2 separate regions of the Homo sapiens genome follow, and region 2 is linked to region 1. Evidence: fine-mapped expression QTL. A gene starts in region 1. The other region holds a variant in brackets. All regions are shown on one strand. Distances are from middle to middle.

The links. PIP is the estimated chance that this variant, and not a neighbour inherited with it, causes the effect.
Region 2: its variant is fine-mapped to the expression of RAB20 in whole blood (INTERVAL, PIP above 0.99).

What each region holds. Positions count from the first base shown.
Region 1 is chr13:110,555,138-110,567,641 of GRCh38, forward strand. It overlaps RAB20 (RAB20, member RAS oncogene family), which reads right to left and starts at 6,585. Exons shown (of 2, transcript NM_017817.3): 1 at 6,211-6,585. The coding sequence starts at 6,382. RefSeq lists enhancers at 2,257-2,780, 2,781-3,303 and silencers at 6,145-6,204, 6,184-6,373, 6,265-6,714.
Region 2 is chr13:110,522,642-110,535,145 of GRCh38, forward strand. RAB20 (RAB20, member RAS oncogene family) reads right to left here. Exons shown (of 2, transcript NM_017817.3): 2 at 425-1,556. The coding sequence ends at 1,024. Among named protein-coding and RNA genes, the nearest start is that of COL4A2-AS1, 21 kb to the left of the region's middle. RefSeq lists enhancers at 1,987-2,126, 3,071-3,120, 3,571-3,640, 8,117-8,733, 11,555-12,337 and a silencer at 4,821-5,115. The variant C/T (reference allele first, on the strand shown) is at 5,591.

The sequences.
Region 1 (12,504 bases):
CACGTGGCAGGGACCCACATACAGTGGCAATTACTGTAAGTGTTGGAAGCACGAGTTTCGGAGGCAGCCCGTCCTGTTACACACAGGCCACACCTGCTCTCCCACCACAAACCTCCAACTACTCTAACGCGCCGGAATAGAACTCAAATGAGGCTTGAATTCCTCTTCCACGTGACAACCTTCCAACACTCAAAAACTTCCTGGGACTGGGGCTCCAGTCCTCTCCATTCCACACCACAGAGTCCCCCATTTTCTCAGTCCTGCCTTTTGTCACACAGATTCCAGGGCCATTGCACCCTGATCCCTTCTCAGGTGGCTCAGCCATCAGCATCCTCTAAAGAGGCCAGAGGCTGGGCCCATCTCTCTTCCACATCTTTGCCGTCCACCCGTCCTTGGGTTCTGGCACCAAGAACATTGGGGTCTGCAAGGCTCATGCCAAAGCTCAGACTTCTAGTTGAGACAGACAGAGGAACTGTTTCCTCGCAGCTTGGGCAGAGGACGCCACGGAAGCGCAAACGTGAATCAGCCTGTGCCTTCTGCGGGTGAAACCAGTCATCAGCCGGCCCCCTGCTCGACTCCAAACAGCAAAGGAAGAAATTCAATATGGCCAGGTCTCCCAGGTTGCTGAGCCCTTGGGTGGCAGATGGCGACTTTTATTCTCACTCTTTACCACGGCCACCGCGAGTGCCCCCAGCCTTCCCTCCTCTCGCCGTGGCCTCCCCATTTATTAGAGACTTGTTTGCTAGGGGCCCAGCTGAGCCTCCCTCCTCCCTTTGTAACATGCCTGCTGGTGTAACCTCAGTGACAGGCACCCAAGGCCAGGAGACAATGTTTGTTTAGCAAAACTCACATGGTACTTCCTCATTCTGGCCACTGTTCTGAGAACCTTGCCAGTGTTAACTGGCTGACTCCTAACAAAGCTCAGACAGGTGCCCCTTTCTTCCCTTATTACACAGGAGGAGCCTGATGCAAAAGGAGGTGACACAGCCACAGCCACAGCTGTGGTCGGCAGATGCCCTGATCTCCAGAACCTGTGCCCTCATCACATGGGTGAGGGACGCTGAGCCTGCCAGTCAACCACCCTGAAAACAAGGGCCAGGATGGATCCCACAAAATCACAGGGGTCCTTTAAACCCTTAGAAGAGGGAAGCAGAGGGGCTGGTTCAGAGGGATGCTGTGTAGGACAGACCTGACCTGACTGCCTTTTCGGAGAGAGGATAAAACCAGGAAATCAGGCAGGCTCCAGAAGCTAGGAAAGTCTAAGAAACAGGTTCCTCCCTTCAGCCTCCAGAAAGGAATGCAATCCTGCAAGCTTTGACTTTAGCCCAGTGAGAGACTCATTTGGGACTTCTGACCTCCAGACTACTTAAAGACAATATATCTATGGTTTTAATTTTTATTTATTTATTCATTTGAGACAGGGTCTTACTCTGTTGCCCAGGCTGGAGTGCAGTGGTATGATCATGGCTCACTGCAGCCTCAACCTCCCAGGCTCAAGAAATCCTCTTACCTCAGCCTCCCAAGTAGCTGGGACTACAGGTGCGCACCACTACACCTGGCTAACTTCTTTATTCTTTGTAGAAACCGTCTCCCTGTGTTGCCCAGGCTGGTCTTGAACTCCTAGGTTCAGGTGATCCTTTCACTTCAGCCTCCTAAAATGCTGGGATTACAGGCAGGAGCTACCATGCCCAGCAAATTTGTGTTGTTTTAAGTAACTAATTTGTTATAGCAGCAATAGGAAACTGACACAGACTTTGGAACTGGGAGCAGAGAGAGGCTGTCACGAATATGGAAGTGGCTTTAGAACTGGGCAATGGCAGATCTGGGAGGATCTGAGGATCATGAGAGGGCAGCCCGGATTGGCCTAAACAGATGGTTGGCAGGAAGGTGCACATGAACAGCCCTGCTGGTGAGGAATCAGAAGGAAGCGAGAAGCATAGCAGAGAAAACCTGCATCCTCGTAGTGAACACCTCCACCAGAAGGAGCCAATTACAGGTGGAAGCCTGGGGTCTGAATGAGGACTGTGTTATCAGAAGCTGGAGGAGGGAGGATGTGGTGCCAGAGAGCTCAGCTGAGTCGTGCCCCACAGCTGTGAGGGAAGCATCACTGTGTGATGAAGTTGGATATGTAGCTGAGGAGATTTCCAAGCAAAGTGTTGAAGGTGTGGATTTTTCTTGCTGTTTATATTAAGATGAGGAAGAACAGATAGGATGAGGGAAGAATTGTCGAACAAAGAGGAGCAGGACTTGGTGATGTGGGAAGTCCTCAGTCAGGCAGATTGCTGGGAGGCTCACACTAGGAGGCCCACCATCCGGAACGCCTGTGCTGGAGAGGAGGCCCTGGTGTGGCCACATAACCTTCTGCTGGTGCCTCAGAAGGACCCAAAGGCCAGAGGACTCTCAAGAGACCAAGATGTCTCATCTTTGCGGTGGCCACTATTCTGTCTGTCACAGCCTGGCTTCAGGCTCCCACAGACGTGCATCCATTCCACATGCAAAATGCACTCACTCTCTCCAACACCCAGTCCCCAGAGACGCAGCTGGAGCTGGATGCCGGCACAGGGAAGTGGCGCAAGTCTGGGCTCCCCGCCGCCTTCCAAGCTGGCTCTTCAAGGGCCAGGTGCTGGGGATGCAAACGTGAGTCAGGTAATGCCCCTGCTCCCCCCGCCTCCCGGCCGCCAGGCCACGGCCTTTAGAAGGGAAGGAAAACAAATGTGGAGAGCATTCTGTCTCCAGGGCTCTGGGGACCAGGTCTGTGCTGGGCACACCAGCCGCTTTCTCATCAGCCTGTCGTATTTTCTTCAGAGCAACGATCAGATGTGAAGCTGTACCATTCACTTCTTGCCTGCCTTTCCCCCTCCTCTGGAATCCAGGGCCTGCGGGGCAGCGGCCAGCCGGCCTGCTCACTGCTGTAGAACGAGGGCCCAAACAGTGCCCGGCACCGGGGAGCCTCAGTTTATATTTGCCAACAACAGGCAACACCACTTTAGGCTGTCCTGAGCAACCGGGCAACACAGAGGAGCACAGCAGTACGTCTTCTAGGGCTCTGCCTCCTCGCTGGGCAACCTCCTTTTGCTTCCTGGATGTACCCACCCATGCACAGCAACCACTCCACATCTGTGTGCCCAATTAGACAAGGGCTGGGAGTGGCAAGTGCCCCCTAAAAGGGCATAATGAGACAAGGTGAGTTGGAGTTGGATGAACCAAGGTCTAAATCCCACTTAACTTCTGCTGTCTTCCCACTTTTTTTTTTTTTTTTTTTTGAGACAGAGTCTTACTCTTGTCACCCAGGCTGGAGTGCAATGGCGCAATCTTGGCTCACTGCAACCTCCGCCTCCAGGGTTCAAGCGATTCTCCTGCCACAGCCTCCCAAGTAGCTAGGATTACAGGCGCCAGCCACCACACCCAGCTAATTTTTGTATTTTTAGTAGACACGGGTTCACCACATTAACCAGGCTGGTCTTGAACTCCTGACCTTAGGTGATCTGCCCGCCTCACCCTCCTAAAGTGCTGGGATTACAGGCATGAGCCACCGCGCAGCCCTGTCTTCCCATCTGTTTTTTTTTTTTTTTTTTTTTTTGAGACAGAGTCTCGCTCTGTCACCGGGTTGGAGTGCAGTGGCACAATCTTGGCTCACTGCAACCTCTGCCTCCTGGTTCAAGCGATTCTCCTGCCTCAGCCTCCCGAGTAGCTGGGACTACAGGTGTGCGCCACCACGCCCTGCTAACTTTTGTATGTTTAGTAGAGATGGGGTTTCACCATGTTAGCCAGGATGGTCTTGATCTCTTGACCTCGTGATCCACCCACCTCAGCCTCCCAAAGTGCTGGGATTACAGGCATGAGCCACCACGCCTGGCCCCATCTTTAACATGCAAATAATCACACCTCCCTCTGGAGGACTGTTGTGTCAATGGAATAGGGTAATGTACTTCTGCCCTGCCAACTCTCTTCCCCCTCTTCAGCTCCATCCACTGCCTGCCTTGCAGGCTACAAGCAGCCAGGCATTGGGTGTACACTGACCCCCATGCAATCGTTTTTACTATTAAACATCCTGTCGCCCTCTGCACACCTGCACCCCCACCCCAGCCCACCCTGCCTTGTGTGGCTAAAAGCAACTTTCAAAATGGTTCCTCCTCCGGCTGGTCCTTACCATTCTGCCTCGGTTATGACAATTACAACAAAAACAACTTGAAAAGCAATGTCTGTGGGGTGGAGAGAAAGTTTAGGAGCTCAGCAAAAGAAGGAAAAGAACAGGGTCCCCTAAATGTTAAATTCTGAATTTCCAACAATTATAGAAAAGGTATCTGTTCCTACCTCTCTTTTCCCTTCAAGTACCCGGTCAGGCCACAGGCCACCGAGGAGGCAGGCAAGGGTGCCCTGTGTCCCTGCCAACTCTGGGCAAGGGCCGCCTGAGTGTGTACACAGGAAGTCAGGAATGTGGAGAAGGGGCCTGGCCACTCTCTGTTCTGAGGAGCTCTAGTAATTCACCCTTAGGATCTTTCGAACAAGCAGCAGCAGCCTCGGATGCCAGGAAATGAGCTGCTGCCCCCCAGTAACGCTTCAAGACATCTGGGGCGTCACATCAGCACAACTGCAAAATCTCTGGTGATCAGGATTCCGGCTGCATCACGTCCTTGGTGCTGAAGAAGCAAGAGGCCAGTGGAAACGAAACTGCTGCTTCATTCCCTCCGATGCAGGGGCCGTTCCAGCACTGCAGGGCAGCTCTTGTTCCAGAAACACACCGTGTGTTAAGAGTCTGCCTCCAACGGTGGCCACTACAGGGGTTTCGGTTAGGGTCCCCCAATAACACTCCTGCATTAACCTTGCTACTTGTAAACCAAGGGCAGCAGTAAATCCCAGCCAACCAGCAAAAGCAGCAGAGGGGCAAAGCTTTGTACAAAACCAAATTGGGTTCAATTTGACTTTGTACAGAAGCAAATTGGGTTCGTGAATTGGGTTCGATTTGACTTCTAGAGCGTGTGTTCCATCGTTACCAAATGCTCAGTGTGAGGGAGTCAGCTCAGTAAACCTCATCCTGCAGCCTGAGGCAGAAGACAGAGTTGGAGCAAAGATCAGGGAAATGCACCTCTTTACCTGGGGGACATTGTTTTCACAAGATGATTGCCAATAAATTAGTCACGATGTTAACTGGGATAATAATAAAAAAGCATCAAAGAAGGCAAAAGGGAGGGGGAGAACTGGAAGTACCTCTGTGAGCTTCGTTAATTCAGTTTTAAAGAGAGAATTCATTATCATCTTGTTTATTCAGCATACTGATACACCCAAGATGGCAATTTAAGAATTCTGGACGGGGCCTTTGGGTATATGACTTTTTAAGATGCTAACATAAAAGAAGTCAGAACTTTCAGAGTTTCAGGCTTCTAAAAACTCACACTCATTGAAAATGTGTCACACTATTTCCAGTTTCTTCATTCACTTACAATATCTTATTCTTTTGTAAGGAGAAGGAAATATATTCCATTGCAATGCTACAATCACCAGTGTTATTTTCCAAAGTTAAACAGAAAGCCTGAATTGAGATCCTCTAAGTTGTACTTTTGAAAAGTCACAAATACTACACAATAAAAATAACTCATTACCTATCTTAAAAATGCTTCCACCGGAAGTCACTCCAACCCAAACCCATATGACGTATCTGAGCCAAGATCAAGCAGAAGATTAACTGTAAAAGGCAGATATGCTCCGGGCTAAGAGGTCCGGAGGCTCCAGTTTTATTTCCTCTCTCCTGACTAAACCCAACAGGGGGGAACACTCTGTGCCTCATTTTACTTTTTCTTAGAAAGGGGCTAATAACACCAGCTCTGCTCACCCCTCAAGTGAATCTCAAAGGATATCATGTTCCTACGGGTACGTGAAAACTGAAAATACCTAACAAAGCAGCCACAGAGGAGCGTCTCTGGTTCCCAGGGCGGCAGAGCAGGAACGCGGGGCTCGGGAGCAAAGGCAGCTTAGGTACACAAATGACCAGCGGGTTCTCTGCAACTTGGGTTGTCCCTGAGGTCACTGAGTGGCTGAGAGGCAGCGCTCAGCCCAACCAGCAAGGGAGGACGAGTGGGAAACCCCGAGAAGGAGGCATTTGCTGTCCGAGGCCGGGACCCTGTGCGCGGCCGGGTGCCCTGCTGGAAGCCCCGCGCCCCCCGTCCCCGGCGGAGCCCCAGGGCGGTGTGGCTCATGCGGCGCCGGCCTCACCTGCGGTGTCCCAGATGGAGATGTTGTAGGAGCGCCACTGCTTCAGGTAGAAGGCGCCGCCCACCGTGCTGACCGTGTCCGGGAAGCGCCGCTCCATATACCGCTGCAGCAGCGACGTCTTCCCCACGTTCATGTCCCCCAGGAGCACGATCTTGCTGTCGGGCTTCCTCATCTTCCCGTAAGAACCCCCAGCGCCCCCGCGCCCTCTCCCCGAGGCTGGCCGGCTCGTGCGCCCTGGGCGCAGCTGGAGGAGCGGACCCCGGACTCGCCGGGACCCGGATTCTCGTGAACGCTCCGGGACCTTCGCCTCCGGACGCCCGGGAGCTCAAGAGAGGAAGCGCGTGTGCGCGCCCGGGAAGGAGCTGGGTGCAGAGCACGGAGCCCACGTCGGGGGCCCGGACCGCGGCGGCCTCGCCTCGCCCCGCCCCCGCCCCCGCCCCCGGGCCCTTTCACCGCCGCGGCCCCGCCCTATCCTCCTCCGCCCACCGCCCCCGTCCCGCCCCTGCTGGACCTCGCCGTTTCGCAAGCATCCGAGTTCTCCAGCCGAGGCTCGGGACTGCTGCAGGGTGGAAAATGAAAGTTCTGAGAGCACCTTCCGCCCCTCCGCTTCTGCACAGCCGGGGCTGCGGTGCGAGGAGCTTGGCCGCGGGGCCCGAACGAGGCGAAGGGGCCGGGGCCCTTGGGGAACCCCCTTCTCTCTTCCACTCTCCCTTAGGTAAAACCCGTGTTCCTCTCACGCTCGACCCAGCGCCTTTCCAGCTGCGGTCGATTTGCTTCTCCGCGTGTAAGTACAGCCACCCTCAAGGTCATTGAAAAAGTTTGCTTTAAATGAGCGTCTGCGGAACTCGTCCTGAGGCTCTCACTGTTACAGATTAGAGATGGGGGCGCTTTCTAGTGGAGGATTTTGCTTTTGCTCTTCTACTTTTGCAAGAAGCTTTTTGTCCTGAAAAGTGGACAGTCATCTCCATTTATAGCTTGGAATGAAAATTTGACTATGGAAGTTGCAGTCGCTACTTGAGAAATATTTCCTCCTTCTTTTTTTTTTTTTTTTTTTATTTTTGACACGGAGTTTTGCTGTTGTTGCCCAAGCTGGAGAGCAGTGCGCGATCTCGGCTCACTGCAACCTCCGCCTTCCGGTTTCAAGCGATTCTCCTGCCTCAGCCTCCCGAGTAGGCGGGATTACAGGTATGTGCCACCATGCCCGGCTAATTTTTGTATTTTTAGTAGACACGGGGTTTCACCATGTTGGCCAGGCTGGTCTCGAACTCCTGACCTCGTGATCCACCCGCTTCGGCCTCCCAGGTCCTCCTTCCGTTTTAAAGGATAAACCTTGAAATGCTTTTAAAATATGCAGCGTGTAGAATTTGGTTAGTTGGTTGGTTGGGGTTTTTTAGAGAAAATGAGAGGTAGAATGGACTCTAAGTTAAACCCTGGGGGACAGTGTCACTCTGGCCGCTGGCCTGGCTGGGAAAGGCGATGAGACCCTGAGCAGGTTAAAACCCGTGTCCTGAAGGTGTCCTGTAAAGGGAAATAGGCCCGTTGCCTCCTTCGTAGGTGCCCTGAGACTCCGACAAGGCAGGAATGCCAAGGTATTTCGTACCTGCTCAGCCCTGGCATGTCAGGTTGCTGAGACCGAGCAGTGTGGGGCTGAGGTGGAAGCGGACCTTCTGGGGCGTGGAAAGCGCACCAGGAGACCCCGGCTCCTTCTCAGCCAGCACTGCCTCATCCTCAGAACAAATTTAAGTCAATTCAGCATTTATTCAATGCCTGTTGCATGCAAGTGACAACCTAAATAACAGAGAGGATCTCTAAAAGAAACAGATATTTATTTTGCAATAGAGCTTTGCAGTAGAAATATGCATGCCATGGTAAACTTGTGCATATTCAGAGAGGCAAGGAAAGCAAAGGCTTTAAAAAAAATGAGGCGGATTGCACAATTGTTTGAAAATAATTATCTGTGGCTACAAAGATCCATAACGAAGGCGATGCCAGTTCAAAGTAGGACAGCCAGTGGCTGGGCCATGTCCTTGCAGGACTAGTTTTTTGTGGGAGATTGCAGTGGCCTTTGTGCAAGGTTGCGGTTTTTCCAGAGAGTCCTTTTTGTTATCAGGCATGCACGCGCAAGAACCCTCTCTTCATGGCCTTCCCCGGCTCTGTTTGTCAGGGTTTTCTTAACATTAGCGGCTCCATTTCGATTCTGACAATTTTCACACAAGCTACAGTGCCTGGCCTGGGACGACACAAACATGAGTCAGGTTTGGTGCCTGTTGGCCAGGCGCAGTGGCACACACCTGTAATCCCACCACTCTGAGAGGCCGAGGCAGATGGATCCTTTGAGCCCAGGAGTTCAAGATTAGCCTGGCAACATAGGGAGACCCCCGTCTCTATGAAAATTACAGAAAAAATTTGCCATGCATGGTGGTGTGCACCTGTAGTCCTAGTCCAAAGTTGCTTTGACTATTCTGGAACATTTACACTTCCATATGAATTCTGGAATCAATGTATCTAACCTCAGGAAACACATTAATGACATATATAGTTAAATTTAGGAAGAGTGGATATCTTTATAATATTAAAATGTCCCATTTATGAACATGGTATACCTCTCCATTTATTCAGCGGGTGTTCAAGGCTCACCTAGAATTTTTACACTTCTTTCTACTTTTTTACCATCAGGAAGTTTAATCACTTCCTGGAGCATGCTTTTTGATTCTCCAAATTTTACCCCCTGTCTGCTTCTCTCACCTGAGCTCTTTGTCCATTTCTTCATCCACCTACTAAGCCTTTCTACATGGATGTCTCAATATGGCAACCCACCACATCGTTCATCTGCCCTTCTGTAAATGCAGAGTCATTCATTCTTTCACCTTCTTTATAACCATATCCAATTCATCACCAAGCCCAATGGATTTTCCCTTCTAAATAAATCCCTCTAACATCTTCTCTCTCTTTTCCCACAGACGCCCACTTGTCTGGAACCTTCTTACACCTAAATAGTTAGAATCCACTCCTATTTGGTCTCCTTAACTCCAAGCTCCTGCCGTCCCAATCACTGTCAGACTAACCTTTCATAACCACTGCTTTCTCTACCCAGAGACCTGCCACGGCTCCCTACTTTCTATCTCCACAAGTCCAAATCCTGCCCCCCGCCACACACACACACACACACTTACCACCCTTTTTACAGTAGCTCTCCCGCCTCCTTTAGCTCCTGTTGCCCTGTGTGTGGCTTATTTACAGGTTTGATGGTGCAGTTTCCTTCTCTAGGGTGTTAGCTCCATGGGGAAGCAGCTTCTTCTGTGTTGTTCACCACTGTGCCTGGTGAACACCACTGCACCTAGCACACAATGGGCACTGAAGAAGGCACTGAGTCGCAGAAGAATGAATGAATTCCCCTCCCTGGTGAGGCCAGAAGCAACATCCTGTAAGCATATCATGACCAGCTATTCTCCACTTCATTGCTCACTGAGTTTGCCCACTTGAAAAGCCCTCCAACCCCTCATCTGTGCAGGTTTGGAATTCTGTGCAGGACTCAGGGATTCCATGAGGTGCAGCCCAGGCACACCCCCTTCTAATCCTCTCCCTCTGGGGAGACCTTTCCTGCTCCTTCATATGAGTTTCTACCACCCTGCTGGCCTCTTCGATGCAGTTTAGCCCCTGACAATGACTAACGGACTCATTTGACTCTCATCATCTCTAGTAATTTAAAAATTCCCTAGGGTCAGGGAGCAGGTCCTAACCTCATTCAACACCTCACCCAGTGCCTTGTCCCTTTCTCAGCACATTCTTCTACTCAGTAAATGTTTGAAGAAGCCTCATGAGGGCAGGAATCTTTGTGTTTTGTTTCTCTTATGTCTCCCAAGTACCTGGCCCTGGAAGGCAATTGATGCTCAATCAATACACATTTTAATAAATTCGCTAGTGAACTGAAACACCACCTGAAACACTGCTGCTTTTAGAGTTTGTGGAGGGAGGGACTGTTCCCTGCACCTACCCCAGTGACTGGCACCTGGAATTCACCGAGCAAGTTGGTTGAAAAAGTTAAAGGAATTTTCCAGCACTTTGAAAACTAAACCAAGAGAATGTCTCCATATCAAATTTCAGCCACTCCTTATAAAAATGTCTTAAAGGCTGTAAATCACCGTATTCACCTGCAGGAAGCAGTGTTGAGGAAGGAGGTAGTATAGGGTTAAGGGTCTATTTAAACCAGCTGCTTAGGGCCAAGTTAGATGTTTATTCTGTCTAGTTTAAACCACTGGCTTAACAGGGTACTTAATTTTCCAGTTTCATCAAAGAAATGTGCTGTGAGGCCAAGAAAATTATGTAGTTCATTTTTTTAAAAGAGATGCAAACTGAGAAATTCTGTGACCATTAACAGTCTCATTAAAGAAATAAGAAAATATGATTGTTTCTCTTAGATTTTGCAAAATGGCTAAGGAGCATTTTTAGACACTTTGTTGTAGAACAACTCTCTTTTAAGCTACTTTCCTCCTTTCTTAAAAACAAAATATAGGCCGGGTGTGGTGGCTCACACTTGCAATCCCAGCACTTTGGGAGGCTGAGGCAGATGGATCACCTGAGGTCAGGAGTTCGAGACCAGCCTGGCCAACATGGTGAAACCCCATCTCTACTAAAAGTACAAAAATTAGCTGGGCGTGATGGTAGGCACCTGTAATCCCAGCTACTTGGGAGGCTGAGGCACGAGAATCGCTTGAATCCAGGAGGCAGAGGTTACAGTGAGCCGAGGTCATGCCACTGCACTCCAGCCTGGTGGTCAGAGCGAGACTTTGGCTCAAAAAAAAAAAAAATGTATTATCCATTTATTATGTACTCATTCAGCAGATAGGAGCAAAAGCGCCCATTCTACTCTTAAGTCCCAACCCAGAAATAGAGCAGTGAGGGAAACTGACAGCATCCTGGGCCTCAGCACCTGCTGGGAGAAAGAGCCAACAAAATACACAGCAACACACAGGATATAGCACCCTTGGTGTTGATTAAACGCTAGATGAAGAAAAGGGAGGAGGAGACGGGAGGAATGCAGGCTGAGGCGGTGGCAGGGGGCTCCATTTTAAACAGGATGTCGACAAAGATAGAATTTCAGCGAGTGCTAGAATGAGGTAAGGACTTACATCAACAATCTGCCCGCACCATTTCTTCTTAGATTTCAGAAACTGTTTTCGTTTGATTCAATACTGGTGCCTTCCTTCGGTTCATTTTCTGTTTATCATAAAAATTATCCTAGGTCTTCAAAACTAATTTAATGGAATTGTATAGAAATGGAAATAAAAGTGACTACAAGCTTCAAAAAGGTAGATTTTGGGTATAAAGACAATCTTATATATTTTTTTCTTTTTCAAGACAAAGTCTCACGTTGTCATCCAGGTTAGAGTGTAGTGGCACGATCTAGGCTCACTGCAACTTCTGCCTCCCCGATTCAAGCGATTCTTGTGTGTCAGCCTCCTGAGTAGCTGGGACCACGAGCGTGCACCACCACGCCTGGCTAATTTTTGTATTTTTAGTAGAGATGGGGTTTTGCCATGTTGGCCAAGCTGGTCTCAAACTCCTGGCCCCAAGTGATACACCTGTCTTGGCCTCCCAAAGTGCTGGGATTACAGGCGTGAGCCACCATGCCTGGCCAAAGTGGTGAATTTTATATTAGTGTGGTTTTGCAGTGGCTAGGTCTGTGCAAACCTATCCCCAAAGGCCAAGGAAACTGACAGGCTGAATAAAGAGGCTGACATACCCAGTTTCCTAGAAAGAAACATTTAGGGCCAGGCGGGAAGACTCACGCCTGTATCCCAGCACTTTGGGAGGCTGAGGTGGGTGGATCACCTGAAGTCAGGAGTTCGAGACCAGCCTGGCCAACATGGTGAAACCCCATCTCTACTAAAAATACAAAAATTAGCTGGGCCTGGTGGTGCACACCTGTAATCCCAGCTACTCAGGAGGCTGAGGCAGGAGAATCGCTTGAACCTGGGAGGTGGAGGTTGCAGTGAGCCCAGATTGCACCATTGCACTTCAGCCTGGGCAACAAGAGTGAAACTCCATCTCAAAAAAAAAACAAACAAGAAAGAAAAGAAAAGAAACATTTAATAAAGATTGGCGAACAGAAGCCGTGTCTGTGTCTTGGGCACCCTTACCTGCCAGACGCAGGCCTTCTGTACTACAGCAAAAGGGTGACTCAGAGGGGATGTGCAAGGGAATTGAAGGACGATAACATCAAGGTTGTTTCAACCTAAGGACAGGATTTACAATGAGGACCTGCTCTTACTCAAGGAACAATAAACTGGAAAT
Region 2 (12,504 bases), 32 kb before region 1:
ACATTGCCTCCCAACAAACAGCCCCGACCCCAGCCTGCTTTCGTTCAGTCACATTTCTGGGAAAACAAATCTGCTGTCTCCTGGCACCTCTGTCTGACATCTTCCAATAAAGCAGCCACCCCACGGCCAGCAGCAGCAGACCCGAAGGGGGTTTCTGACTCAGAGACCTGGGTGCTCAGATGCCCCAGACTTCAGCAGAACCAGAGCTTTAAGCTTTGCTACTATTATTGGAATTCAAGTCATCAAGAAAACTAGACAGATGGGCCAATCTAAATATTCTGCAATTGGTAAGGATTTCACAGAGCTTCCGCACAAAGAGAGACGTATCTCAAGTTCACAGCCATCTCCCCAGCGCCCCCCACCCTACCCCACAGAGAGTCCCTGGGACTGGGGGTGCAAATGAAGTCAGTTCAGTCTCAATACCTAAGTTGTTCCAAAAATCCTCTTTAATAATACATGTAGCCAACATTGCTGCAATCAGTATAAAAACAAAGTTATTCCTGATTTTGTATAAATGAACACGTCGAGAGTCAGGATTATAAAGCATCAAGATACAAGTACCAAGTGGGAGGACCAAAGACAACTCACAGTGAAGAGAAACGCTTGAGAACAAGAAATGTCAGAGTTGTAGGACGTGGTAACAACCCAGGGTGCTGAAACGGTCAGAGGTGCAGGTGCAGACGCAGGCTTCTGCCTCTGCAAGGGCAAGGGGGCCGTTGGTGGCTGGCTGCAAAGGACCAGTGCCAGGCAGCGGGGCAGAGAGCACCAGGGGTCTCGACTCTGCAGATTGGGCTTTGCAGAGGATTCCTGTTTCCCACCTCCCCACCCCTCTGACAGAGACTGAGGAGACCACACACGTTGACCTCCTCTTCATAGCCAGCCATCATTTCCACTCCAACATTCTGCTGCGGGTGTCATTCTGGAAAATAATTCCTTGCTGTTCCTTGCTCCTTTCAGATCACAGCTTGCCTGGTCAGACCCCTTCCCAACATGCACAGTCTGAGTCCAGGAGGCCCTCGAAAGTCAGGCACAACACCCAGATCTGGTCCTCTTGGGTGGCTTATGACTGGATATATCCACTGTGTGTGACGGCCTCTCAGCTCTCTGCTGTAAGATCATTGGCACCACCAGGTCAAAGAGGGTCTCAAACAGGAGGTCCACATTGTAGCCGGTCTTGGCGCTGGTCTCAAAGCACATTTGCTCAGCGGCCGGCACATCCTGCTCATCCAGCATCTTGTACTTGAGGATCTTTTTATAAAGGGCCACCGCATCCTCCAGCTGCACCTGCTTAGGTGCCCTTGGGGAGACACGGTCCCCAGCGTCCATATTGGGACTGCACTCTTCCTTCTCCTGGCCCGCCAAGGCCCCCTCCTCAGTGAGGTCCACTTTGTTCCCCACGATGGCAAAGAGGCAGTCTTTGCTGGCTGTGTCTGTCAGGCCCAGGAACCGGTCCTCCAGCTCCACCAGGCTCTGCCGGTGATTCACATCATAGGTGAGGATGATGGCGGCCGCCCCCCGGCAGTACATGGAGCCCAGGCCGTGGAACTGCTCCCGCCCTGGTGGGAAGAGAGGGACAGAAAGAGTGGTTATCTCTCATCTCAGAACATAGCCACCAGCCACACTGCAAGGGAACGTCCCACAGGGATGTTTATTTTTAGGGCAACACACACAGGATGAAATGCTTAAACATAGTTGATGGAGAATGTGCCACCCATGGGCACCATCCCCAAAGCAGGCAGCCCCTCGAGAAAACAAGCTGTTGGGTGCCCAGACTAGATGGGAAACAGAATCCAAGAATGTTCAGGAAGAACGGGCCTCAGGCATTCACACAGCCCTCCCTGCCTTCAAGCACCAACTCCAAAGGAGTCCTGGCCCCAGCCATGGCTGGAGATGGAAGGAATCAAGAACTGATGTCCAGAAAAAAGCAGCGACTGCCAAGGCCCTTGCTGAGATAGAAGCTGACTCGGGAATGCAGACTCCGGAAGCAAAGTGTGCCCATGTCCCTTCACCCTCCTCCTTTACACCCCCTGGGTGCTCCCAGCTGCCCTGTGCTGCCCTGCCCAGGAAGTGCTGCGGGGAGGGCTTCTGAGTTCATAACAGCAGTTGTAAACCACACCTGCCCTTATCTGCCCAGAATCACACAGCACCCTGCGGTGCTCACGATATTTTTAGGACACAGTGGACATCTCCCCTCCCACGCTGGAATCGGAATCCCTGAGGAGCCAGGCCCCAGCATTCGCACTTCTTGTGGGTGCCGCAGCCCCGCCTGCCCTCCAGGTTTAAAACAGACAGAGGTGCGGGCAATTGCAGGCAAGCCGGGAACCTGCTCCCAAAACATTTCCAGGTTGAGATCAAACCCTCGGGACACAGCTCAACGTCAACACATTGGCTACTGACAAGGTGCTGTCTGTCACTGGGTCTGGCGGGGAACAGGGCCAGCTGGCATGCACCCCTGCAGTGCCTGGAGTGTGGGCATCTGCTCTCCCCGTGCCCCCAGCACTTCAGCCTCACGAGGTCGATGTGGGCACACACACTTTCCATGAGGAAACTGAAGTGTGGGGGAGTCAGGCATAGCAGCGCTAGAGGGAGGCTGGGCCAGGGCACTGGAACACCCGCCACCGTCCTACATTTAAACGCAGAGACCCCCGAACTGATGGCTAAAAAGGAAGATTAAAAGGTCCCCAGCTCTGTGTACTTTTACAATGCAGTCATCTAATCAAATCAACCCGGGTCAGAATACACTCCCCACAGGTAACACCTGCACATCCGTACTGTTCTGTTCCCAACGTCTGCCCCAGGACCACCTTTCTATCCCACCAACAGTGCACAGATCCCCAAGGGGGCCCGCTCACCTCCCCACCAGCAGGCGGCTCCCTGCCAGTCCACTCAAGGGCTACCTAGGAACTTTCTGGCAGAATTCTGAACCCCTGTCTGTAGCACAAGCTTTCTGCATACTCAGATGTGGAGGACAGACTCCCACAAGGGGAGCAGATCTGGCCAAGGCAGGTGTTCCTGGGACAGGTGCAGTGCACGCAGCAGGTGAGAGCCCCCAGCAGGGAGGGCCGAGCCGAGCACGCCTGCTGGTATGTCCTCCCAGCCTTGGCGTGCTTTTCATCGTTGGACACATCTGCCGCACTGGGGGGACGAGCTCTCAGGAAGCAGCTGTGGGAGAGGCAGCAGCATGCACCTTGGCCCCCACCTGCCTCTCGAGGACCGAGCAGGCTGTGCATGGCATGGGCCCTCCCTGCTGGCAGGAAGGGGCTTCACAGACGCTCCTGGTGATGCATTTGTTTCAATCACCAACAAGCAAACCCCAAGTGAGATCTTCCAACCACAAAGCACCTGCTCCCAACCACACCTGCCGGGGGCACGCTTTCGAAGAGGAATGAGACTGAGACCTGTGCTCAGACGCCATCCCAAGGAGCCTCTGCAGACAGGCCTGGAAGCTCCCATAGCACCTGCTGCAGGCCAGCTCATCCCCTCCTCCCTGGGGCATGTGTGGCCTCCCGGGCCATGCCCTTAGGCCAAGAGGAGGGAGAGCTGGGAACGACTGACAGCACTGGCCTCCACTCTCGAGCTCAGAACGCCAAGGTCAAGTGCCTCTGAACAAGGATGAGGCTGCTGGGGCACTGGCGCAGAGAGAGGTGGCACCCAGGGAGTGTCCAGGCCCCATTCCAATCCCTCGCCTGGGAGAAGTAAGCCTGGTTCTGATTTTTTAAAAAGAAGCTAACAATGTGGATTTTAATCTCCCAAGTTTTAAGCACTCAAAACTAATTCAAAATTTTCTAAAGATCACATTTAGGCAAACCAAAATGCAACAGTGGCCCATCATTGGCAGCTTCTAAATTATAAATGGTCCCATGTCACTCTGAGGGCAACTTCCCCTGAGTGTGTGGACAGTGTCGACCACTAGCAAGGGCTCTTAACCACTGGGGTCATAAACCAAATTCACAGGGTCCATGACCTTGAATGAGGGAGAAAACATCATCTTTGTTTTCACCACCCTCTACCTGAAATTTACCATTTCCTTTCACCACAAATATTGGCAGCAAACTGCAGAAATGGCAGTAAGGGGCACTCATCACCAACAGGGCCAGCAGGTGCTTCCATCCGCATGCCAGATGCCTCAGACACTCCAGCGTGATGCCCACGACCCTTCAGACCTGCCATGCCTTCATTCATTAATATGTGGACCATGAACCACATATCAATCATAATTTAAAAAGGCTCAAGACGACTGTACTTAAGGACAGCTGGTTACCTTTGTATGTGACTGCACGCACTTGGGCATAGTGTTCTGAGAAGGGGTCCTGGGCTTGTACCCCTCGGGGGCCGAGGGGTCTTGACACAAATGAAGTTAAGGCCCCTTGGTCTGTGGGGCTTTGGAGCATGGACTGAACGCATGACACCTGCACACATGTGGCTCTCTAAGGCAGACTGTCCTTTGCCAATAAACCACTGTTTAGAGCCAAATAGCCAAGAAGCACAACCAAATTTCATCCCATTCCCATCCCCAATCTTTCTGAAATGGCCACACATTCTGATGACGCCAAGTCCTCAAACCTTGCTGGGCGATGCTGCCTGGATTTTGAGGCAGGCTGGTCACCCCTTGGGCAACCCTGGAGAGAGGCGCCCACAGAGACACACACTCATGTCCTGTGAGAAGAGCCAGACAGACCTGTCTACTGACCACTGTGGTCTCCCAGGCCCCGAGCGTGGACTCCAGCTCCCCCTTCAGCAAAGCCGACAGTGTGCCCTTTGGGGATGTGGAGGGAAAGCGAGCTGGGAGCTGAGCCCAGACCAGCTCCGGTAGGAGTCAGAAGAATGTGCCCTGCTGCCAGTCTGAGGGTCAAAGTGCGAGAGCTACCCGGGTCACCTCCCTCTTCTGGGAAAAGCCAGCCTGGGAATGCTGTTGTTTGGGCGACAGAGCCACCCTGTTGGCAAGCAGCTTGTGCTCTGGAATTCAGCACCTGAAGGGCAACATTCCTCCCTTCCGCACGCCTACCAGGGGTCAGCTTCAGACTGAGAAGTCAATCCGTTTCCAGTCAAGCTGGACTGGACCCCAGCAGGCAGAAATCAGACAGTGTCCCCGGAATCCACAGTCATTCTCCCACTACAGAAGATGATGATCAAAAGCCTTTAAAACCCAATACAGCAGGCATTAGCTTCAAAAAGAACAGGCTAGGGCAGGAGGATTGCTTGAGGCCAGGAGTTGGAGCCCAGCTTGGGCAGCATAGCAAGGCTCCTATCTCTACAAATACACACACACACACACACACACACACACACACACACACACACATACACTTTAATTAGCCAGGCATGGTGACGCATGCCTGTAGTCCCAGCTACTCGGGAGGCTGAGGAGGGAAGACTGCTTGAGCCAAGGAGTTCGAGGCTGCAATAAGCTATGATCATGCCACTGCACTCCAGCCTGAGCAACAGTGAGACCCCATATCTAAAATAAATTTAAAATGGTAATAATAAAGGAAAGAAAAAGGCCGGAGACTCATGCCTGGAATCCCAGCACTTTGGGACGCCGGGGTGGGCGGATCACCTGAGTTCGGGAGTTCGAGACCAGCCTGACCAA[C/T]GCAGAGAAAACCCATCTCTACTAAAAATACAAAATTAGCCAGGCATGGTGGCATGTGCCTATAATCCCAGCTACTTGGGAGGCTGAGGCAGGAGAACTGCTTGAACCTGGGAGGCGGAGGTTGCGGTGAGCTGAGATAGCGCCACTGCACTCCAGCCTGGGCAAGAGTGAAACTCCATCTCAAAAAAAAAAAAAACAAAAAACAGAAAAGAAAGAAAAATGCTTCTTCGTCATTACCACAGTACTAAGACTTTTGTTTCAGGGACACTAATCCCATAGATAACAGTCCAGGCATCATGAGGTTTTTACATGAGCTAAAAACGTCATCAGCTTCTACCCACCAGATTTCACAAGAGTGTGACTATGGGAATGCGGAGTCAGGGGCACTCCAGCTACCCTGGAAGAATGGTTTTCAAGTCTCTGTTACATAGTTCACTAGGGCCAAAGGGAGAACCGTGTTGATGCCTATGCCTAAAATAGTTTTCCATTCCAGATAAAAATGCCTGATTTGCCTTTAAAAAACTAAAAAAGGAAATAATAATATAAAAGGAAAGATCTTAGTAATGAAAGGAAACAGGAACTGAAGAATCACAAATGCTAGCCAGAAAAAAGTAAGAATTGTTGCTTGAACCCTATAATCTGTTATCTACCCATTAATGAATGCAAACCAATTAAATGCAGTTGCCCCAGCTAAAGAATTTACAAGCAAGCAGTTTTCATATTTGAAATTCTAAAATACTGCTTTGGAGATAATGTATAGCTTTTAGGATTGCTAATGGAAGAGTCAGGCTGCTCTCAATGAGCGCATTGTCCACACCAAGAAGGGCCAGTCCCGCAGGGAACAGAAGTTCTGAATTTAATCCTAATTGAATTTGAGTAGGGGCTCTGGTATGTAAGGCATGAGAGTGAACATAAGACAATGAAAATAAAATGGTGTCACTACAACTTGACCTTTTGCACTTGGCTTTGACAGATTCACAGTGTATTTGAATCCAAGGACCCTCACGCGTTTTCTGGAAGTTTGTGAATGTGCTCTGAGCCGGGCCGTCAGCCCCCTGCTGCCAACCCCATACACATGTCAGCCCCTGTATCTCTCAGAATATTGATTTCCTGTCTACAAGTATGGGCTTAAACTGAGTACTTCAAAGTCCCTCTCCCTGGAAACAGGATCAGGCATCTCTATCTCTATTGCCTTCTCCCCCAGACCGGAGTCCGTCAGTACCAATCGTGAAGCCAAAGCACTGAGAGTTCTGGTGGTTTACCTGGACTTTCCTGGAGAAATAAACAGCCTCAGGTCCAATTCTGGGGATGCCAGAGCCCCAGGCTGCCCCAGAAACAGGGCAAAAGAGAAAAATCACAAATTGGTTCAAATTCAACCAATGCAGCCAAGGGTCAGTGAGCTGCCAACCCTGGTCTGGTGAACGGAGCCAGGCTGCCGAGCCTGTGTGGCCACTACCAACACGGGCCTGACATCATCAGGGCTGGGGGCACGGGTTCAAGCCTGAGGAAGGAGCCCAGCCTTCCGCCAGACTCTCCCGCCTTTTTGCCTGGGCTGTCTCCAGGCCAAGCAGACGGGAGGATGGGTGAGTGACCGGAGCCTGGGGCTCTAGGTTCGACTTGTCCAGGAATTATTACTCGTCTATGTAGCAAATCCGTAAGTGATCTGCTCAGCTTTATGTCACCAACACATACAGACGAAGAGGTCAATTACCCCTGGTGGTGAGGGAAACCTGAATCTGTAAGAACGCCTCCAATGTCTGATCAGCCACACTGTTGGACAAACTACTGAAATGCAGCAAAACTGACCAGGACTTTAACCGTGAGTTCAGAGCAGCCAGAAATGAAGACGCCCTGCTCACTGCAGACAGGGCCCTGGGGAGGCAGGTCCCACCACCCCACCTCTACACAGACACAGGGCCCCGGGGAGGCAGGTCCCACCACCCCACCTCTACACAGACACAGGGCCCCGGGGAGGCAGGTCCCACCCGCCCCACCTCTACGCAGACACAGGGCCCCGGGGAGGCAGGTCCCACCCGCCCCACCTCTACGCAGACACAGGGCCCCGGGGAGGCAGGTCCCACCCGCCCCACCTCTACGCAGACACAGGGCCCCGGGGAGGCAGGTCCCACCCGCCCCACCTCTACGCAGACACAGGGCCCCGGGGAGGCAGGTCCCACCCGCCCCACCTCTACGCAGACACAGGGCCCTAGGGAAGTAGGTCCCACCCGCCCCACCTCTACACAGACACAGGACCCTGGGGAAGTAGGTCCCACCCGCCCCACCTCTACACAGACACAGGACCCTGGGGAAGTAGGTCCCACCCGCCCCACCTCTACACAGACACAGGACCCTGGGGAAGTAGGTCCCACCCGCCCCACCTCTACAGACACAGGACCCTGGGGAAGTAGGTCCCACCCGCCCCACCTCTACACAGACACAGGACCCTGGGGAAGTAGGTCCCACCCGCCCCACCTCTACGCAGACACAGGGCCCTAGGGAAGTAGGTCCCACCCGCTCCACCTCTACACAGACACAGGACCCTGGGGAAGTAGGTCCCACCCACCCCACCTCTACACAGACACAGGGCCCTCAGGAGGCAGGTCCCACCAGGTTTGTTTCTCGAATTTACAGATCTAAAAACACAATTGTGTCTGTTCACCTAAAGAGCTAATTCCACTCACTTTATGAGGTTTAAGTTCTGTCTAAACAAGAGAAATGGAAGCCAGAACAGGACTTCGTAATTTATAGCAGGGAATGAGCTGTTAACTTCCACGATCCCGTCCTGTATCAAGGATAGGAAGCGCTGCATTAGCTATGGGAAGAAGCATGGCCAGCACAGTGTGAGTCCTCAGGGTTTATTATGCTCGTGCAGGCTTCCCTTTCCCATGTTTTACAGGAGGAGGAACTGAGGCACAGATGGAGAAGGAGGTGGGCAACAGACACAGGAGCGGTGGAGCCCTGAGAAGCACGCTGGCAACAGGCACCCCAGGGAGTCTGGTCTAACCACCCCCAGAGGCAGAGGAAGGGGCCTAGGGCCCCTTTGAGGTGGGCTGCTGGGCAGGAGAAAAGCCTGCCTCCACCCTGTGATCCCACAGAGCACAGGCATTTGCAGAATGCAGCCACCTTCCCAGGAGCTCCAAATTTTACGCAGAGAACTATCCTGGAAGTGCCGGCTAATTCGCTGGGCAGGGACTGCAGAGCGTTCTGGTAAACAGCCCCCACTCTAGAGACAGACTACATTCAAATCCCCACCGTGTGACCTTGGGCAAGTCACTTAGACATGCGGTACCTCAGTTTCCCCGTCACTAAAATGTGGGTTACACCTGCCAAAGGGTGGCTGAGAAAGCAGAATCTGCACACAGGTGAACTGGCTGGAGCTGCACCCAGCACATTAGGCCCTGTAATAGAAGTGCTTGTTCCATAAATCGTGAGATTCCTCCCAAACCTAAGGATGGATGCCACCGTCCCAGGGCTGCCCATGTCCCGGGTCTCATCATCCCTCCATTTACACACCACCTCCTGGGGCCGACTGGGCGCTTTTGCAGTGGACCAATCTTCTACGTTTCTTATTCTCAGATGATGACCTTCTCCCTGGTCCTGGGGGTGCTCCGGATGTTGCCAGATCAGTGGAGCTGACATGGCCCAGGGTTCAGGCAGAAGGGGAAGGGAAGTCAGCACCCACAGTAATCCTGATTCACTGTTGCGGAACCAAAAACTGCCCAAGTGCTTTCCATTTCACTCTTCAGCCTTCCCAAAGCCAAACACAGCCAGGCTTCTACCCCAAGTGTTGTGTCGTTTTCACTATTGGTTTAAATAAGAGTGGGTTGAGATAGCCATCAGAAGCCACGGACACCCTTGGCTCACATCTTAAGCATGGGGTGGGGAGACTTAAAAAATACTGATGCTCAGACCCTGACCCAGCTGCCAGGGCAAGAGTGGGGCTGGCATTTGTATCAGCTTTAAAAGCGCCCCAGGTGAATACCAGGTGCACCAGGAGTGAAAATCAGCAATTTACCCAGTGAAAGTGGGAAATAAAAGGGCAGCTATTGAAATGTAAGAATTAGAAAGCTTGGTATTTCAATTCATTGAAAAGTGAGCCCTACCAGGAAATGCAAACACTGAGACAACAGGAACTTTCATTATTTATTTATTTACTTTTTCTTGAGACAGAGTCTTGCTCTGTTGCCCAGGCTGGAGTGCAGTGATGCAATCTCAGCTCACTGCAAACTCCACGTCCAGGGTTCAAGCAATTCTCCTGCCTAAGCCTCCCTAGTAGCTGGGATTACAGGCACACACCACCAAGCCCAGCTAATTTTTGTACTATTAGTAGGGACAGGGTTTCACCATGTTGGCCAGGCTGGTCTCAAACTCCTGACCTCAAGTGATCCACCCACCTTGGACTCCCAAAATGCTGGGATTACAGGCGCGAGGCACCACGCCCAGCCTATTTAATTATTATTTTTTTGAGACAGAGTCTTGCTCTGTCACCCAGGCTGAAGTGCAGTGGTACGATCATGGCTCAATGCAGCCTCCATCTTCTGGGCTTAAGTGTTCCTCCCAACTCAGCCTCCCGAGTAGCTGGGACCACAGGTGCATACCACTACACCCAGCTAATTTCTTTTATGTTTGTGTAGAGATGGGGACTTACTATGCTACCCAGGCTGGTCTTGAACTCCTGGGTTCATGCTATATTCCCAACTTGGCCTCCCAAAGTGCTGGGGTCACAGGCATGAGCCACTGTGCCCAGCGGAGAACAGAAACTTTTAAGATGAGTTCTCTGCCTTGCCAGATCGGACAGCCCCCTGGCAGGGAGCTCACAAAACATCGATGTGACAACCTGAGGAAAGGAAAAGTGCATATTCCCAGACCAGAGATGGGAGCAAAATAAGCAACTCCAGCAATGGCACCAGCAGCAGCGCAGCCTAGAGGAGCTGTGACACACTTCCCATCAGAGATTGTTCAAAAACACCACGACATGCTTTCTCCAGTGTTTGCAGGTTGCATCCACAAATACGAGCCAAAAGGTTATTTTAGTTCTATTTTGTAAAGTTGATGAGTTTTGGCTAAAGTTGAGAGTCATGGGACCATCTCCACAGGCATGATCTACATTCCCTCTAGGTTTGTTTTTTTAAAACCGATAGTGAACTTGGTTAAATAATGGTGCGTGGAGGCCAGGCACAGTGGTTCATACCTGTAATCCTAGCACTTCAGAAGGCTGATGTGGGAGGATCCCTTGAGCCCCTGAGTTTGAGACCAGCCTGGGTGACACAGTGAGTCCCTATCTCTACAAAAAAAAATTTAAAAATGAGCTGGGTATGATGGTATGTGCCTGTAGTCCCAGCTACTCTGAGGAGGCTGAGGCAGGAGGATCGCTTAAGCCCAGGAGGTTGGGCTGCAGTGAGCTGGGATACTGCCACTGCACTCTAGCCCGGGCAGCAGAGCAAGACCCTATCTCAAAAAGAGAGAATGGGATGTGGAAGCAACCATCCCCTCAGGAGCATTAGAAAAGAATAAATAATTGACTACTATAACCAACACTGTATTCAATTGTTTGTTGATTTTAGTGCAGTAAGGAAGGCCCACAAGAGTCCCTGGGTGCATGAATGGAGCTGGGCTGCCTGGAGCCAGCACAGGGCCTGGCTGGACACACCTGCCCCCACCAGTACGTGGAAAGTGGAGAGCTAGCAGGCAAGGGCCCCACGCAGTGGGCAGGCCCTCCCCCCAGAACCCACATGCACCAAAGCCTCCAGAGAGCCAATGGCTTGCCAGCCTCCACCCACCGTGATGGGGAACTGTATCTGGTCGGGCCCCGGTGCCCAGCAGTTTGGTCCTGCACTAGCCTGGACATGGCTGGGAAGGTGTTTTTTAGGTGGGATCAGCATTTACATCAGTGGATGTGAGAAAGCAGACAGTGCTCTGTGATGTGGTAGGCCTCGTCTAATCAGCTGATGGCCTGAGAAGTAAAGACTGAGCTCTTCCAGACACGAAGGAATTCAGCCCCCAGACAGCAACAAAGCAACCTTGCCTGAGCTCACACACCCTCTGTCAGGTCTGTTTCTCTGGGGAAGCCTGGCTGCCTTATTCACGTGGACTGCTCACTTGCTTCCCTGGGATGGAGGCTGTCTGCAAAGCTGAGGCTCTCCAGAGAGGCCTGTACAGCTCCCCCATTTTCAGGCTGTCCCCTGAGGCCGAGCCCCTACAAAGAGGTGCTGCCACCGTGATGTACGAGTGTGCCGGTCAAGGGTGCCGACCACGCCCCGACCCCTGCCTTGCCCCTCAGCCAAACAAATGTCCAGGGCAGGGGAAGTGGCATGACAGGGGCTTTTCAGAAAACTGCAAGGATCACTTTGACCCAAACTGGTCACTTCTTCATTGAGGGTTCCTTGCCCGGGCAGTTATCTTTCCAAATGCTGATCCAATATGAACACCCTCTACTGTGCACCCCAGGGGGCTTCCTAGCAGGCTTCAAAAGAGTGTGAACTCCACAAAACTGGACCTCATCATAAATGCACAAGTCCTCTCCTGCCAGCTGTTCAGCAACTAAACAGTAAAATAGGAAAAATATGATTTCCAAAACGAAGAGCAGAAGACATATCCAGCAATATTTTTTTGTGGAAACAGAGACAGGGTCTCGCTCTGTCACCCAGGCTGGAGTGCAGTGGCTCAATCATGGCTCACTGCAACCTCATCCTCCTGGGCTCAAGCGATCCTCCCACCTCAGCCTCCCAAGCAGGTGGGACTACAGGTGTGTACCACCACGCCTGGCTAATTTTTTAATTTTTAGTAGAGATGAGGTCTCACTAAGTTGCCCAGCCTGGTCTCAAACTCCTGAGCTCAAGTGATCCCCCCGCTTTGCCCTTCTAAAGTGCTGGGATTACAGGCCTGAGCCACCACGCCCAGCCCAGGAACATCTT